Linked DNA regions of Homo sapiens: region 2 is linked to region 1. A link means that fine-mapping ties the variant in region 1 to the expression of a gene that starts in the linked region. Tissue or cell type: whole blood. Region 1 holds a variant in brackets; the other region holds the start of a gene. All regions are shown on one strand. Distances are from middle to middle.

Evidence for each region. PIP is the estimated chance that this variant, and not a neighbour inherited with it, causes the effect.
Region 2: it holds the start of ASAH1, and the variant in region 1 is fine-mapped to the expression of ASAH1 in whole blood (TOPMed, PIP above 0.99).

The regions. Positions count from the first base shown.
Region 1 is chr8:17,745,716-17,753,821 of GRCh38, reverse strand. It overlaps MTUS1 (microtubule associated scaffold protein 1), which reads left to right. Exons shown (of 15, transcript NM_001363059.2): 2 at 1-105. It also overlaps the pseudogene RNA5SP256. Among named protein-coding and RNA genes, the nearest start is that of MTUS1, 51 kb to the left of the region's middle. The variant T/A (reference allele first, on the strand shown) is at 4,516.
Region 2 is chr8:18,080,681-18,088,786 of GRCh38, reverse strand. It overlaps ASAH1 (N-acylsphingosine amidohydrolase 1), which reads left to right and starts at 4,680. Exons shown (of 14, transcript NM_177924.5): 1 at 4,680-4,806. The coding sequence starts at 4,729. ASAH1-AS1 (ASAH1 antisense RNA 1) reads right to left here and starts at 3,919. Exons shown (of 5, transcript NR_125429.1): 1 at 3,848-3,919; 2 at 3,302-3,545; 3 at 1,851-1,904; 4 at 1,650-1,762. It also overlaps the pseudogene MRPS18CP3. RefSeq lists enhancers at 3,698-4,233, 4,034-4,313, 5,114-5,223 and a silencer at 4,564-4,763.

The DNA.
Region 1 (8,106 bases):
AGCCCTGAAAAGAAGGGTGAAAAAGAAAATGGGACATCTATGGAAAAACAAGAGCTGAAACAAGAGATTATGAATGAGACTTTTGAATATGGTTCTCTGTTTTTGGTAAGTAATATATATATATTTTTTGCATGCTTCAGAGAACTGTGGAGAAAACTGAGATGTGTTAGCATTTAGTTATCTATTAGTCAATAATATTGCAGAACCAGGTGGGCAGATTTACATTTAGTTGTTAATTCATTGTCTTGTCAGTACTGGGGTGTTAATAGGTTTCAATACAACAAAACTGCATATGGAAAAAAAAATCCTCAATTTCAGTATTTTGTATCAAGTATCACCGTTCCTTTTAATAGTGTGCTGAAAAATGAAGTTACTTTAATATTTTAGTATAATTAGTAGTTTAAGTGCCTGATACAATCAGGTTATATTTTATTTTTCTGAAAAAGTTGGGTTGTCAACTTTAAAATGTATTGGACAGCATTTAAGAAAGGGCTTGGGAGTGCTGGTAAACATGTCAACATAAAAATAACTCCTGGACTCTTGCGGAGGAGGCAGCTCTGGGAAGTAGAGCCCTCTTGTATGAGCAAGAGTGTTCTTGATTTTTCCTCTGACCGGCCAATAATGATTTTTGGCAAGTAATTTTTCGAGACCCAAAGATGAAAGGATTGGACCTAGTGGATGTGTGAAGCCTCTTGCAGCCTTAATATATTAATTCCTGGTATATAAAATAAAATCTTTTACTTATGTATAGTGAAAAACCAGTATGTTTTCCATAGCGCCTGTCTAAAATATTTGGGGGGGACCTAGAGAGTGCTGTTTAAAGAATAAAGAATTCACATGCAGTGTAAAGGTGATTTTCCTTTAAACATGCATGTGTTTTTGAGAATAGTGTGTAGAAATTGGTTTTCTGGGTTTTAAAAACATTTGACAGGCCACTGTTGGTCGTTGGGCATGTGTCCTCAGCCCTATTTTTGGCAGTGGGGACTTAGGTGTATTTTCAGCCCCAGACAGGCTGTCCTTGGGTGCCTGTCCTCTGGGCCAGGAAGGGAGCTAAGTGCCAGCGGAGAAAGGCAGGTGTGACACAGACAGCCTGTCCCTTGGAGGGCTCGTGGCAAGAGGAATGAAGCACATAGAATAGCAAGTGCAGAAGGGCTGACTTAGGTGTGTCTTCAGGGTGCATGGGGACCACAAGGGAGGGAATTGTCAGGTCCGTTTAGAAGACAAGGTTAGGAAAGACCGAAGATATTCTAGATTCTCTAAAACATCAGTTTAGACATGTTTGGGCTTTAACAACCAGTCTTCTCTATTTGGAAGAAGGGTACACCACAGTGATTTCTAAACTAATGAGTTCATCCGTTGTTTCAAAACTCAGATTTAGTTTTTAAGTTATCTTGAAGTCAAACTTAGAAAACCGATATCATTTATAATTTTAATTTTTTTGCAAAATTAAATTACAACATACTCTTAATTCTAATCAACATTCTTAGTTTGGCATTTACAGATATACATAGAAACACGATGTTTATTCTCTTGATTTATGGGAGACTTTTTTTGGTGTGTCAGTCCCCAGCTACCAAAAACTCTATCATAAAGTTTCTTTTTCTTTAATGACATTTGTCTTGAATTTAAATTGGTTGTGTAATTTTGAAACTAAAAGTTTTCCTGATTTGTGCATTGAGTCTTAGGGTTATGTTGCCCCTGTGCAGCTTGAAAACCTGTTTTTCAGGCTCCCGATGTGGTACTGAGGTAAGGATAGAATCATCAGGTTGAAATGGATCCTAGTATGTCTTGGAGAAACAGCACTTTTCGCCTCAGGAATCTGGCTGTTAGGATTCATAATTAGATATGAAATACTTTGTAAGTCTTGAAAGATTGTCCCATATTCGCATATGCTTATCAACTGGCATAAGGGACTCTTTTTTCTTTTTTGCTTTCTTTTTTTTTTTTTTTTTTTTTTTTAAGGCAGAGTCTTGTTCTTGCTCTTTCGCCAGGCTGGAGTGCAGTGGCAAGATCTCGGCTCACTGCAACCTCCGCCTCCCAGGTTCAAGCAATTCTCCTGCCTCAGCCTCCCAGGTAGCTGGGACTACAGGCGTGCACCACCACATCCAGCTAATTTTTGTATTTTTAGTAGAGACGAGGTTTCACCATATTGTCCAGGATGGTCTTGATCTCTTGACCTCATGATCCACCTGCCTCGGCCTCCCAAAGTGCTGGGAATACAGGCGTGAGCCACTGCCCCCGGCCTACTCTTTTTTCACGATCATGTCTGAAGCACAGTGCTCTCTAATTTTGCTAGTTTACCTCTTGCACATTTCCATGTCTCTGGGAAGGAGGACTGGAAAGTGTCTGGGCAGACCCTCATAGGCCACTGGCTTTGCACTTACTGTAGAGAGCTGAATGAATTTGCTGCGTGTTTTCCTGAAACATGAATGTCGGTTGGTCACTTCAGCAGCACTCAAAGGCTCTTACTGCCCTGGATTGACGAAGAGACCATGCTGGAGGGATGTTAATTTTCTTTTTCTTTGAGATGGAGTCTCCTCTCTCACCCAGGATGGAGTGCAGTGGCGCGATCTCGGCTCACTGCAACCTCTGCCTCCCAGGTTCACGCATTTCTCCCAAGTAGCTGGGACTACAGGTGCACATGCCTGGCTAATTTTTTGTATTTTTATTAGAGATGGGGTTTCACCACGTTGGCCAGGCTGGTCTCGAACTCCTGACCTCAAGTGATCCGCCCACATTGGCCTCCCAAAGTGCTGGGATTACAGGCGTGAGCCATCGCGCCCGGTCGGATGTTAATTTTTACTGTTGCTTTGTTGGCCTTGGCCTGCCTTAGGCCTTGAGTTTACTGAATCCCTAGACTGCCTGCAACCTCACAGCTCATTGGTGGTCAGGGTGTATCTGAATCTTTAGAAAAGTTCTTATTTGGAAGAAGGAACTTGATTTTTATTTGAAACGGGGCTAGATGTAGCTCCTCACAACAGAGGTTATGTGTTCATGATAGTGTGTGAGATAAAGGGAGTGGAGACTTAACCTAAAAGGAAAGGAATTGATATTTATTCAGTGCTTGCTCTGGGTCAGGCACTTTGCTCAGGTGCCTTAGTTATATTATGCCATTTAATGGGCCCTGTAACGCTCAGGTGCTTTCCATACATTGTTATTTACTCTTCCCAATAACAACAGGGCAATTGTTGTCGACATTTTAATACTTCAGCGAGGTCACTTAAAACTCACACAGCTGGTAAATAGTAAAATTGGGATTCACACTCAGAGCCCTCACTTGAATCCTGGCCTTTTCTGCTCCATACACCATACGGTTTCAAAATTTTTGGAATGTTGGCTCTGAAAGGCAAAACAAGTGATTTGCTGAAGATTCACTTTTGTAAATTGATGAGCAGTTTGCCTTACTTTTTAAAAGAAGGTTTTCTCTGGGAGGTTAACTTTTGGGTTGCTTTTTAAAAGAAGATTTTTCTCTGGGAGATGAATTTAGCCAGCTTTAATTTAACCTAGCCAGAGACAGAAGATCTTTGTTAGTTTGTGTACAGTCACTTGCTTTTCTTGGCCAATTCTGTATTGTTCTCCAGTGCCAAAACATGACCTCCAGCTGTTCTCATGGGTGATTGGCCTGCTAAGTTATTGTTGAATTCACCTAATGTATGAATTCGACTGCCATCGGCATTGGGCTTTATGTGTATCTATCGGAAATTAACACTTGAGATTTATTAAAGAAAGAAGAGTGATGACAGGGAACATGCTGCTTTACAAGCACGGATTTTAGAGTAGTTTCAAATTGTAGCTCCACCATTTACTGGGCAAAGTGACCTCTGGCAGGTTACTAAGTCTCTATTGAGCTCAGTTGTTCTTTGTGTCAAAAAAAGGGTCAAACTCTGTAATATATTTGAAGAGATTTATTCTGAGCCAAACATGAGTGACCAGTGGCCCATGACACAGCCCTTAGGAGATCCTGAGAAGATGGGCCTAAGGTGATCGAGGTACAGCTTGCTTTTACACATTTTAGGGAGACATAAGACGTCAATCAGTACATGTAAGGTATACAGTGGTTCTGTCTAGAAAGGAGAGACAACTGGAAGTGGAGGCAGCTTCCAGGTCACAGGCAGATTTAAAGATTTTCTTTCTTTTTCTTTCTTTTTTTTTTTTTTTTTTTGAGACAGATTCTCTGTTGCCCAGGCTGGGGGTGCAGTGGTGTGATCTCTCGGCTCACTGCAGCCTCTGCCTCCCGGGTTCAAGTGATTCTCTTGCCTCAGCCTTTTGAGTAGCTGGGATTACAGGTGAGGACCACCACACCCAGCTAATTTTTTTGTATTTTTAGTAGAGACTGGCTTTCCTCATGTTGGCCAGGCCGGTCTCGAACTCCTGGCCTCATGTGATCTGCCCACCTCGGCTTCTCAAAGTGCTGGGATTACAGGTTTGAGCCACCACCCCCAGCCTAAAGATTTTCTAATTGGCAGTTGGTTCAAAGAGTTAAAGACCTGGAATCAACAAAAAGGAATGTCTGGG[T/A]TAAGATAAGGAGCTGTGGAAACCAAGGTTTTATCATACAGATGAAACCTTCAGGTAGCCGGCTTCAGGGGGAGTTGATTGTAAATGTTGCTTATCAGACTTAAAAGAGTCTGTTCTATCAGTCTTAAGGTCTTTGTTGATGTTAATGCTGGTCAGCTGTGCCTGAATTCCAACCCTTCGGAGAGTATAATTATGTCTGACTCCCCCTTCCTTTCATATCCTGAACTAGTTTTTCAGGTTAACCTTGGAATGCCCTTGGCCGAGAGAAGTGGTCCCTTCAGATGGTTGGGGGGCTTAGAATTTTATTTTTGCTTTACATTAATGTAAAGGGAGAATTGCAAATTGTAGTTTGGTGTTGGAATTCACACTGTGAGTAAGGCTCAGACTCCCATTTCCTCTATGTAGAATAGAAACATTTATTGGGTGCATACTATGTATTATACATATGGTGATGATTGTTAGGATGTAGGGAAAAAAGAGACCCTGTCTGAGTGCCTAGTGCAGTGGGTAATACTGTTGCAGGAGTTTTTCTCAACCCATTTGTAAAACTTGCGATGGGGGTGCCCCATTCAGCCCGCCATGCTCAACCTCTTGCGGGCAGGAGTGTGTGGGCAAGTGAGTACAGGATCCAGCCAGCCACTTTGAGCACCGGCAGGAGCATGCTGTGTGCAGGCCCCACAGTGGTGCCCAGGTGGTGGTGTCTGTGACCCTAAAGCCCCAGAGGGCATGCTACAGTGCTCTCTTGGCTCCACCATCCATGGACACCGGTGTGTCATCAGCTCAGTGGGCCCTTTGCCTCACTGTGTGGGGCAGCTGCCCTCCAGTAGCGAGGGCAAAGGGTCAGTGTGATAACCTTTTTTGGGTACCCAAAGTTGGTGGGTCCCAAGCTCTTGTCCACTGTCCAAGAAGAATTGGGTCACATGGACACCTGAAGGATGGTGGAGGCAGATAATTTTATTTAGCAATGAAAGTGGCTCTCAGCAGAGAGGGTAGCTGAAGACGGGACAGGACGGGCAGATAATCTTCCCTAAAGTCTGGCCATCTACACTTGGCTCTTCTCCAAAGCTAAGCCATCTCTCCTCCAAAGTCCAGCTGTCTGTCTGCCATCCAAGTACTAACCAGGCCTGACCCTGCTTAGCTTCAAAGATCAGGCGAGATTGGGTGTGTTCAGGGTGATATGACAGTAGACTCAGCTGTCCTCTGAAGTCTCCAGTTGATATGATTTGGCTGTGTCCCCACCCAAATCTTGTATTGAGTTCCCACATGTTGTGGGAAGGACCCAGTGGGAGGGAATTGAATAATGGGGGGGCAGGTCTTTGCCATGCTGTTCTCATAATAGTGATTAAGTCTCACAAGATCTGATGGTTATTATAAGGGAGAGTTTTCTTGCATGAGCTCTCTTTGCCTGCTGCCATCCATGTAAGACATGTCTTGCTCCTCCTTGCCCTCTGCCATGATTGTGAGGCTTCCCCAGCCACGTGGAACTCTTAAGTCCAATTAAACCTCTTTCTTTTGTAAGTTGCCCAGTCTCATGTACGTCTTTATAAGCAGCGTAAAAATGGACTAATACATCAGTCAAGCCGCTTGTCTCCCCTACCAAGTGAGTCTGGGGTCTTTACATGAATGGGATGTGGGGGGCAAGGCAGGCCATAGGTAGTTTTGGAAAAGGCAACTTTCAATTGGTAAAAAGACATTATTCAGAAAGAACTAATTAGGAGAGAGTGGGCAAACAGGTTTAGAAGTTCTCACTTTAGGCTGTGGGTTTCAGGGTTTTTGCCTTGAAGGTGGGGTTTTGCTGGGGACCTGCCCCCGTCTGCCTAGAATTTCTCTGCCTCCTGCCTCTATCAATACAGTAAACAGGCAAGGGTATGTTGATTGCTAAGTTGGGAGTGTGAGTAGACTGCTGTGCTGCAGGAGGGGGAACAAGATGTGGTGGTGGGCAGAGTTGTCAAGGAAGGCTTATAGGGGACATCACATGTTGTCACTAGCTGGAATTTGAAGGGCAGGTATTCTGGGTAGAGTACAAAGCTGAAGAAATATGAGAAGATTTTCTAATTTAGGGGACTCTAGGTAGGTGTGGTGGGAGCTGGGAGAATGGAACCCTGAGCAGTAGGGAATAAGGTGAAGAGGATGGCAGGGGCTTCCATATGCAAAAGGATTGCTGGGCCTTGTGAAGAAGATGTTATCTGGAAGACAGACAGAAGGTGTCTAACCCTATTCGAGTTTGAGAGAGATTGCCCTAGCAGGCAGATAAAAGATGAATTGAAAGCTGGAGAGACCAGAAAGATCCTGTGGACATCGTTTCAGTAATCTTGCTGAGAAATGACAGCAGATGGAAAAGAGAAACAGCTTTCATTGTTGAAGTTGGGTGCCTGGGTATGTTGTGGTGAATACAGGAAGAGATAAGTTTTGAGATAGATAGGAAAGTAAGATTAATTTTAGAAAATGCTTCATGTTCTTGTTCTTTAAAATGGGGTACAATAAACCTACCAACTTCACAGGATTATTATGAGGGTTAAGTGAATTGATACATATACTTAGAATTTAGAATAGTATTCTATACGGGCTATATGTTAGTAAGTTAAGTAGAGTCATATGGTTTGGCTGTGTCCCCACCCAAATCTCATCTTGAATTGTAGCTCCTGTAATTCCCACATATTGTGGGAGGGACCTGGTGGGAGATAATTGCATCATGGGGGTGGTTTCCCCCATACTGTTCTTGTGGTAGTGAGTAAGTCTCATGAGATCTGATGGTTTTATAAGGGGAAACTGCTTTCCCTTGGCTTTTATTCTCTCTTGTCTGCTGCCTTGTAAGATGAACCTTTCACCTTCTGCCATGATTGTGAAGCCTCCCTAGCCACGTGGAACTCTGAGCCCATTAAACTGCTTTTTCTTTATAAATTACCCAGTCTCAGGTGTGACTTTATCAGCGTTGTGAAAATGGACTAATACGTAGAGGTGCTTGAAGGATGCTGAGTTGGGATGTATAGAAAGAAGTTAGGTATATGGGAAACTCAGGAGAGAGTACTGGTTGAACATGTGGATTTGGATGTACCAGTGTACACGTGGCAATTGAAACAGCAGCCAAGATCATGTAGGAAGAGTACATGGTGAGGAAAGAGAACAGGGCCAAGGCTAGGTCTTCATGAAGACTAGCTGTATCAGTCTGTTCTCACATTGCTATATAAAGAACTACCTGAGACTGGGTAATTTATAAAGAAAAGAGGTTTAATTGACTCACAGTTCCACAGGCTGTACAGGAAGCAAGGCTGCAATGTCTTGTATGACTGGAGGAGGAGGAAGAGAGTGAGGGGGCAGGTGACACACCCTTTTAAACAACCAGATCTTGTAAGAACTCACTGTCATAAGAACAGCAAGGGGGAAGTCTGCTTCTATGATCCAGTTACCTCCCACCAGGTCCCTCCTCCAGCACTGGGGATTACAATTCGATGTGAGATTTGGGTGGGGACACAGATCCAAATTATATCACTAGCTTCCAAAGGTACAGAAGAATAGGACCCAGAAAAGGAATAACCGGACAGGTAGAAGGAAAACCAGGAAAGAGCTTTGTCAGGAAACCAGAGAATGGAG
Region 2 (8,106 bases), 330 kb before region 1:
GTCAGGAGACAGAGACCATCCTGGCTAACATGGTGAAACCCTGTCTCTATTAAAATACAAAAAATTAGCCCGGCGTGGTGGCAGGTGCCTGTAGTCCCAGCTGCTTGGGAGGCTGAGGCAGGAGAATGGTGTGAACCCAGAAGGCGGAGCTTGCAGTGAGCTGAGATCCTGCCACTGCACTCCAGCCTGGGCTACAGAGGAATACTTCGACTCAGGAGAAAAAAAAAAAAAAAAAAGAGTGTTCACGGCTGTTAGACACACAAGACAAACCATCTAAAACAGATACTGATAGTAGTAACCAATAAAAAAGCATCCAAAATGAGCAGCCCAGAAACAGATGAAGAGATTGAAAAGATGAAGGTTTTGGTGAATATTCACGGTCACCTACATTTTGATCCTTTTAACCTTAAAAGGAGATTTTTTTAATTTGGCTGATGGGTAAAGTCAAACATTTCCATTGTTTTTACTAGGTTGAGCTACTTGCAGTAATACAGGTAAGTTCATTTGTTTTTACTATATTCACCTCTTTGCAGTAATCCACAGATAAGTCTTAGTGCATTTATTTTACAAAGTACTTTTTCAAACATCAGATCCTTTTATTTCCAAACCTTTTTTCGCCTTTCAATAAGTTGTTGAGGGAAAGGCTTACACACATTCTTTAGAATTGGAAAAGTGAGGCCAGGCACAGTGGCTCACAGCTGTAATCCCAGCACTTAGGGAAGACAAGGCAGGAATGATTGAGGCCAGGAGTTAGAGACCAGCCTGGGCAACACAGTGAGACCCATCTCTATTAAAAAAAAAAAAAAAGTATTAGAAAAGCTAGAATAGCCTTATTTTCACAATGTGGAAAGAAATTTATATGAAATTTATCTGAGTCATTAAAATTATCCTTAGGTGATAATTTTTTAGAAGTACATTACAGCTAGTGTTGCCAGATAAAATGCTGGATCTCACGCAGTACCTTTGCAAAACATGATCTAAAATTTAAATTTGTCCTACATTTGTACTTGCTAAATCTGGCAGCCTTAATTATTACACAACTATAACGCAACACAAACAATAATCTCTCCCCTAGTTTAGAGTCCTTTGCACGAAATTTAGCAAATCCTTAATTTTGAGTACAGTACAAGCCTGGTAATCCAGTGTGTTTGGGATAGGCTGGTGGAACTCAGAACTGATACATATATACATACATGTCTATCACATTCACTGTCTATTAGGTGTAAATCATCTTTTTATGTAAAAGACACTACTGGTTTGAGGATAGAGTTGTCTAGGAATGTTTTGTCCTGCTGTGACAGCATCACTATGCATCCCAGTGTAACATTCCTACAAAGGGAAGATCTCTTAACCAGGCATACTTACATTTGCTAGTTAGAAAACCATTCTGAGCAGTTTTAACTCCATTCAGTTGAATGGTGTACTACATTGTATGAGCTATTTGTGGACCAGATATAAATGACTATCACCCAGAACCACTTTCATTCAACATATGTAAAATGTGATGAGTGTTAACATTTTAAATAAGCGATCTGCTTAATGAACACTGATTGGTATGAAGGGGAAGTGTCATTCTTTACCTCACTCCTGAAACACTTTTCTATCCAAAGGTTGGTTTGAGTCAGTATTGGCGTCATACAACCACTTACTATAAAATAAGTTTACTGGTGGTAATGTGATGGAATTTATTCCGGATATCTGATGTTATAAACTTTAGGGTCCCTGAAATATGCAGGATCCTTGTATGTAACTGGCATAAACCCTGTAAAGAGATAATTAAAGTTCTTGACAAAGCATAATGAGCAAAATTTCAGCTAGCTCAATACAGTTGTTGAGGTGCTCTTTCTTACCCATTGTTTGAGCTCTCTTAATTGCTTTTGTGATTTGTTTCTTCCCACAAAGACCTGTAAAATAAAAAGCTTCCTTATTCATAAAAAAGTCAATATTTAAAGTTAAAAAAATGTTTATTTCTCAAACTGAAACATTATTTCTCTATCTCTTGACCTTTTAGTACACGTTTTTGTATATTCGGTTTTACTAAATCAAGTCAAACCTGTTCCAGGTAATGTGATGTTATACATGATAGGTTTCATTTAGGGTGGGGTGGCTAAGTTGCAACCCTTTTAAATCAAGGCTCCACCTCAGGAACCTAGGAATGTTAGGTAGGAGATGAGGAAGTCCACAGCTTGCCAAGAACTTCAGCTATTCCATAAACAATCTGATTACATATCCCGACTCTTGCACACGAAACAGGTTATCCAAGTCTTAAACTTGATGCTTTTGTGCAGTATGAACCACCCTTTCCGTGGACATAATCATGCATTTGCACATTTAAATACCATTTTCTATGAACAGATCAGTATGCCAAAAACCACTGCAAAGTCTCCTACACACACCTTGCCTTGACTTTCTGTACATTTCTAGTATTAAAGAATGGTGTAGGCAAAATAAAGATATATGTGTAAGAAAAAAAAGACATGCATGAAATGGTTTAATTTTAGGGAACTAGATTTATATTTTATCTGAAAAGAGTATTAATAATATATAATAGACCTTTGAAAGTTAGACGCATAGTTCTGCGAAAGTGGTGCCTAAGAATAGTATGTCAATTGACAAATTTTTTCCATAAAGAATCTGATTTTGCTAGACTACCTAATCACCAATTAACATCCTCCAGTAGGGAAAAAAATATGCTTGGTGACATGTTTAAATCGCTCTCAAGAGTACTGAAGATGAATGATCTTCCAATCAAGTAGCTATTTGATTTAGTAATAACAACTAAAAGATGGGAATCCTCTTCTTCGCACACTCATTTTAAGCTCCAAGGTAATTCCATAGATTCAACATTTAACACGTATATTCAATATTACACATTTTTTTTCCGGAGTGAAATGGCTCTGAATGCCTTACAGAATTTGCCCTGCTCTCCTTAACTAAATACTTTGTCTATTAATACTTCTTTCTTCTTTTCCCCTTGTTCTTTCTGTGCCAGACCCACACACGTCTGCTGTAATTGAACATGCCAGGCACATTCTCCATTTAAAGCCTTTTAACAGCTGCTGTCTCTGCCTAGAATACTCTTACTTGGGCACACACAAAACTAGCTTCCTGGTCTCCCTCAACTGTCTGCTCAAACTTCACCTCCTTAATCATGTCTATCTGTCCCTCTTATTTAAAATTGTAACTCTACCACTTCTGATCTCCACACTTGATGCCCCTGGCCTCCCTTTTCCTCCACTGCATTTGTCACTAACATCCCGTATAATTTTCTTAGGTATTATGTTTATTGCCCATTTCTCACCGAGAACATACGCCTCAGGGTGGAAGAAGTTTGTCTTTTTGTTGTTGTTCACTGCTTATCCCCAGTGTCAGGAGACATGCTTGGCACATTGTAGGTCCGCAGTAAATATTTTTTGAATTAATAAAGAATATTTCTACCATCTGCTAGCTTACTGTTCATGCAGGAGCTCAAATGTGCTTTAAGCATGTGATATGTTTCAAAAGTCAAACTTCATCCTTAGGGAGAACACTGTCATCTTCTCCTCCTTTAAAAAAAAAAAATAGGAAAAAAAGCAAAACAAAACATCACCTTCTCATTTCCCCACCTCCAACAAAAAGAGTGTTGAGTTTTCTAAAGAAATAATACAAATGGATAAAACTGCAATTTGTTGTCCTTTCTCTCACATGCAAAAAGAAAAGAAAAAATACTGCCGAGATTTCGGCAGCGTGCTGAGCTTCATCAAAGCATTAAAACAATGCTGCTTGAGACGTCAGAGGCTCATCCAGGAAGTGCAACCCAGAGGGCAGGATTTCCTGCTGGACTTTGAAATCCAACCCGGTCACCTACCCGCGCGACTGTGTCCACGGATGGCACGAAAGCCAAGCGAGTCCCCCTGCCGAGCTACTCGCGTCCGCCTCCTCCCAAGCTGAGCTCTGCTCCGCCCACCTGAGTCCTTCGCCAGTTAGGAGGAAACACAGCCGCTTAATGAACTGCTGCATCGGGCTGGGAGAGAAAGCTCGCGGGTCCCACCGGGCCTCCTACCCAAGTCTCAGCGCGCTTTTCACCGAGGCCTCAATTCTGGGATTTGGCAGCTTTGCTGTGAAAGCCCAAGTGGGTAACCAACAGCTTGGAGGACCCGAGTGGATTCGATTCTCTCTCACTCCTCGGCCACTCAACTGCTCCTTGTCCCTGACTCCGCGGTGGGGATGAATAACTCAACTCATTTCGGGCCGCTTTTCTCAGAGGGCAAAGATGGGTCAGGGTGGGATGTTACATTAGTGTTGAGACTCTTTGGATCCGTTTCGTGGGTACCGAGGACGCCTGGGTACGCGGGACAGGCTGCACCCGCCTGCTAGAGGCGCCCCATCGAGGCGCCACGGGTGAAGCTCCCGGCCCCACCTACGGGGCGGGGCTCCGGCTCGGTCCGACTATTGCCCGCGGTGGGGGAGGGGGATGGATCACGCCACGCGCCAAAGGCGATCGCGACTCTCCTTCTGCAGGTAGCCTGGAAGGCTCTCTCTCTTTCTCTACGCCACCCTTTTCGTGGCACTGAAAAGCCCCGTCCTCTCCTCCCAGTCCCGCCTCCTCCGAGCGTTCCCCCTACTGCCTGGAATGGTGCGGTCCCAGGTCGCGGGTCACGCGGCGGAGGGGGCGTGGCCTGCCCCCGGCCCAGCCGGCTCTTCTTTGCCTCTGCTGGAGTCCGGGGAGTGGCGTTGGCTGCTAGAGCGATGCCGGGCCGGAGTTGCGTCGCCTTAGTCCTCCTGGCTGCCGCCGTCAGCTGTGCCGTCGCGCAGCACGCGCCGCCGGTGAGTGAGCTTGAGCCGAGGCGCAGAGAGGGGCGTGCAGGTGCGGGCGCGGATGGAGGCGCAGGTGTGGCGGCGCGAGCGGGTACAAGGAACACCTCGTGCTGGGCAGCTTCTTTACGGGGGTCTGTGGTTTCGTGCACAGGGGTGTGGGTGCAGAGCGGGCTGGCGAACCCCGTCCTCGGTAGATTCGGTGCTACCTGCAACTAGAACTCCTTTAAAGGAAATCCTAGTCTCTGCAGGATACCTGGGTGTGATTCGCACATTCTTAGATTTGAGTGAGTGTACTTGAATAACCAGTTCCAGGCCCTTGCATTTTGAAGTGTTTAAATAAAATGTTCCGGTGGACCTGTGTGCATTACTCAATCAAGGACAGACTGCCTGATGGTCAGGTGCTTTCTCCCGAAGAAGTTCAGGAGTTCAGCCCAGGATACTGCAGGGCCGTGGGAAACGCTGAGTGGTCCCAAGCTTGGGCGGTGCGAGCAGCCCAGAGCAGGCCCCAAAGGGCCCCCTGTGGCCTTTTGCACCCAAGTCATGGGATCGCCTGTCCCGTGGCTCTTTCCCACGAGCAAGTCACAGGGCTACGGACTTCCTAACTGCAAGAGACAGTGAGGGACGAGCGTGACTCTTTCATTTTACAGAAGAGGAAGTAGACCTAGAGTGAGAAAATATTTAGCCAGAGGTTACACTGTTGTTTACTGAACATGCGTAACGTCCGAGCCTCTTGACGCCCAGTACTCTTTCATAATTCATTTCTTTATAAAGCAATCAGACTGCGTTTGTCTTTGCCAACAGAATCGGATAAGTAGGAACCTGGCGCATCTGGCCTGAGGCTAGATGGTGATGGTCTTGAATAGTTTAGGTAGGTTATTGAAAGTGGAAGCAAGATGTGCATTGTCTTCTTTTATACCTGTAAGGAGAAATTCTTTAAAATCATGGTGGGATATGATTTAGCCATTAAAATTGATATAATGTTCAGCAGATAAAAGTAGAATCCAGAATAGTATATACAGTTTTTCCTGTAATAGGAAAATACACAGAACATGTATGTGGACACGATTAAAGGCCTTAAAATAAAATTGCTCCATTGTGGGTAGGGAATTAATTTGCTTGACGGTAGTTGGTTTTATGGGAATTGGGAGAGACTTTGATACTTTGATACTGTCAGGGCCCTTCATTGAAAGACCACCAGGAACACACCATAAGCTGAACAAATTGGGTTTAGTGTTCTTTGAGGCAAAGGAGACCACACACCATGAGCGACGGACGGTAGGTTATAGAAAAAAACCCATTACAGAATTTGAACTTCGGTTGCATGATTTGGGGTAAGACTGAGGAACCGGGCTTTGCTGTAGATAGAATGCTGTTAGAAGGTGGGGCAATTCTGACTGAGTAAAGAAGGAACAGCCATTCTGTTTAGCACGAGAAGGGGATGTTTGGTGTTTTGTGCGTTGCAGGTGCCCTTGTTTTTGTCTGTTCTTAGAGAAAATCTTCAAGTGGCATTGCTTTGTCTTGGTGTGTCATGTCTCAGAATAATCTTATCCGACGTAGGTATCTGTGGGATTGTTGATGTCCAGGAGGAAAACAGAGCTTACCTGGCTGTGAGTGTCAGATCGGCTTGTAATAATATTGAGAGATAGCTGTGGGACTCAGAGCAGTTTCAGGTGTTGGAGGCTGTTTTTTCTTCTTTCTCAATAGCTTTATTTATTCTAGCAAAAGTATTTTGATAGCTATTTTCAGAAGAAGAATTAACAACCTCTCAATGGATATAATAGTTCTTATCTAGAACAGCGATTATCAAAGTCTAGTCTGGCCACTGGTGTCACTTTGGGAAGCTGTTTTCACAGGTTTTCAATGAAACTGGAAAAATAAGAATGCAAAACTAAAATTATTAATTTAGAATGTTAATCTTTACTCTGATTGTATGGACTTCAAGTTTTCATTGTTGCAAACGTGTTCTTAAAAATAACGGCAGAGGTAGATGTTATGTGCATGGAATTTGTTTTGTTTTAACATCTCCATTTGGCAGAATAAAAATTTGGACCCTCCTGTGCCAAGGCCTCATTAATTTTTTTTTACTGGCCTGGAAAATCCTGGGATCCATGCACTGAAGGACCTTTAGAACCTTACAGAAGTTTAGTGACTTCATTCTCTGAGAAGAATAAGCAGTTTTTCAACTGGAGTCATTATATGATAAACTATAGCCTCATGGTAACAAAAGATATTTCAAAAGTACTTTCAATAAATATGAATAATGAGAAGCAGCTTTAAATTGGAAACAAGTCATTTGATTTAGAACATCTGTAAGGATTTTTTGTGTGTTTGTTTTTGAGGCTTTTCACAATATTCCTATGTGAAGGTCCTCCTGAGTTATTCTTCATTATTGAATTTTTTAGGAGTCTATTAAGAGATGATGGTGAAGACAGTGGCACAAGAAATGTCTGGAGAGATAGCGCCAGATGACATCATCCAGGGTTCTGTAGACTCTTATTAAGGATTCAGAAATTTATCCTAAAAAATGGGAGGATCTGGAACCAGCCAATGGGAGGCCATTAGATGGTTTTAGACAAGATAACATTTTCACTTTAAAAAGATGAGTCTGGATTGGAGGTCAGCAAGGGTAGATATGAGGAGACTAGTCCAGAAAAGAAAACAGGGTGCGTTGAAGGATGGTGGCGCCAGGGGTGAGGGAGAGAAGTAGATGTTCTAGAAAAAAATCAGGAGGGCGAATGAGCTGAAGGAATCGTTGGGTGAGGATGAGGGAGTGAGGTGTCAGCGTGACCTGCACATTGCTGAAGTGCTTCGCTGGGCGAATGGTGGCATCCGTTCCAGGAAACATGGGGAGGGGAAAGCTTGGGGGCTAAAGAATGAGGATCGTTTTCATTTGGGGTGTATGTTAAATTTCAGGTGGCAGAGAGGCATCCAGCAGGCCACTCGGACTGGCACTCAGAAGAGAGACACTGAGAGTCACTGGCATAATGATATTATATTTGAAGCCCTTGGAGCAGATGAACTTACCTAGAAATAGGATAGAGAAAGAGAAGAAAAGAGAACTAGGCAAAGGCTAAGTAACTTGCACATGTATGTGTCAAGAAGAGGAGAAATTGCCAAAGTTAAAACAGGACAGGCCGGGCGCGGTGGCTCATGCCTGTAATCCCAGCACTTTGGGAGGCCAAGGTGGGCAGATCACGTGAGGTCAGGAGTTTGAGACTAGCCTGGCCAACATGGAGAAACCCTGTCTCTACTAAAAATACAAAAATTAGCTGGGCATAGTGGCTCACGCCTGTAGTCCCAGCTACTCAG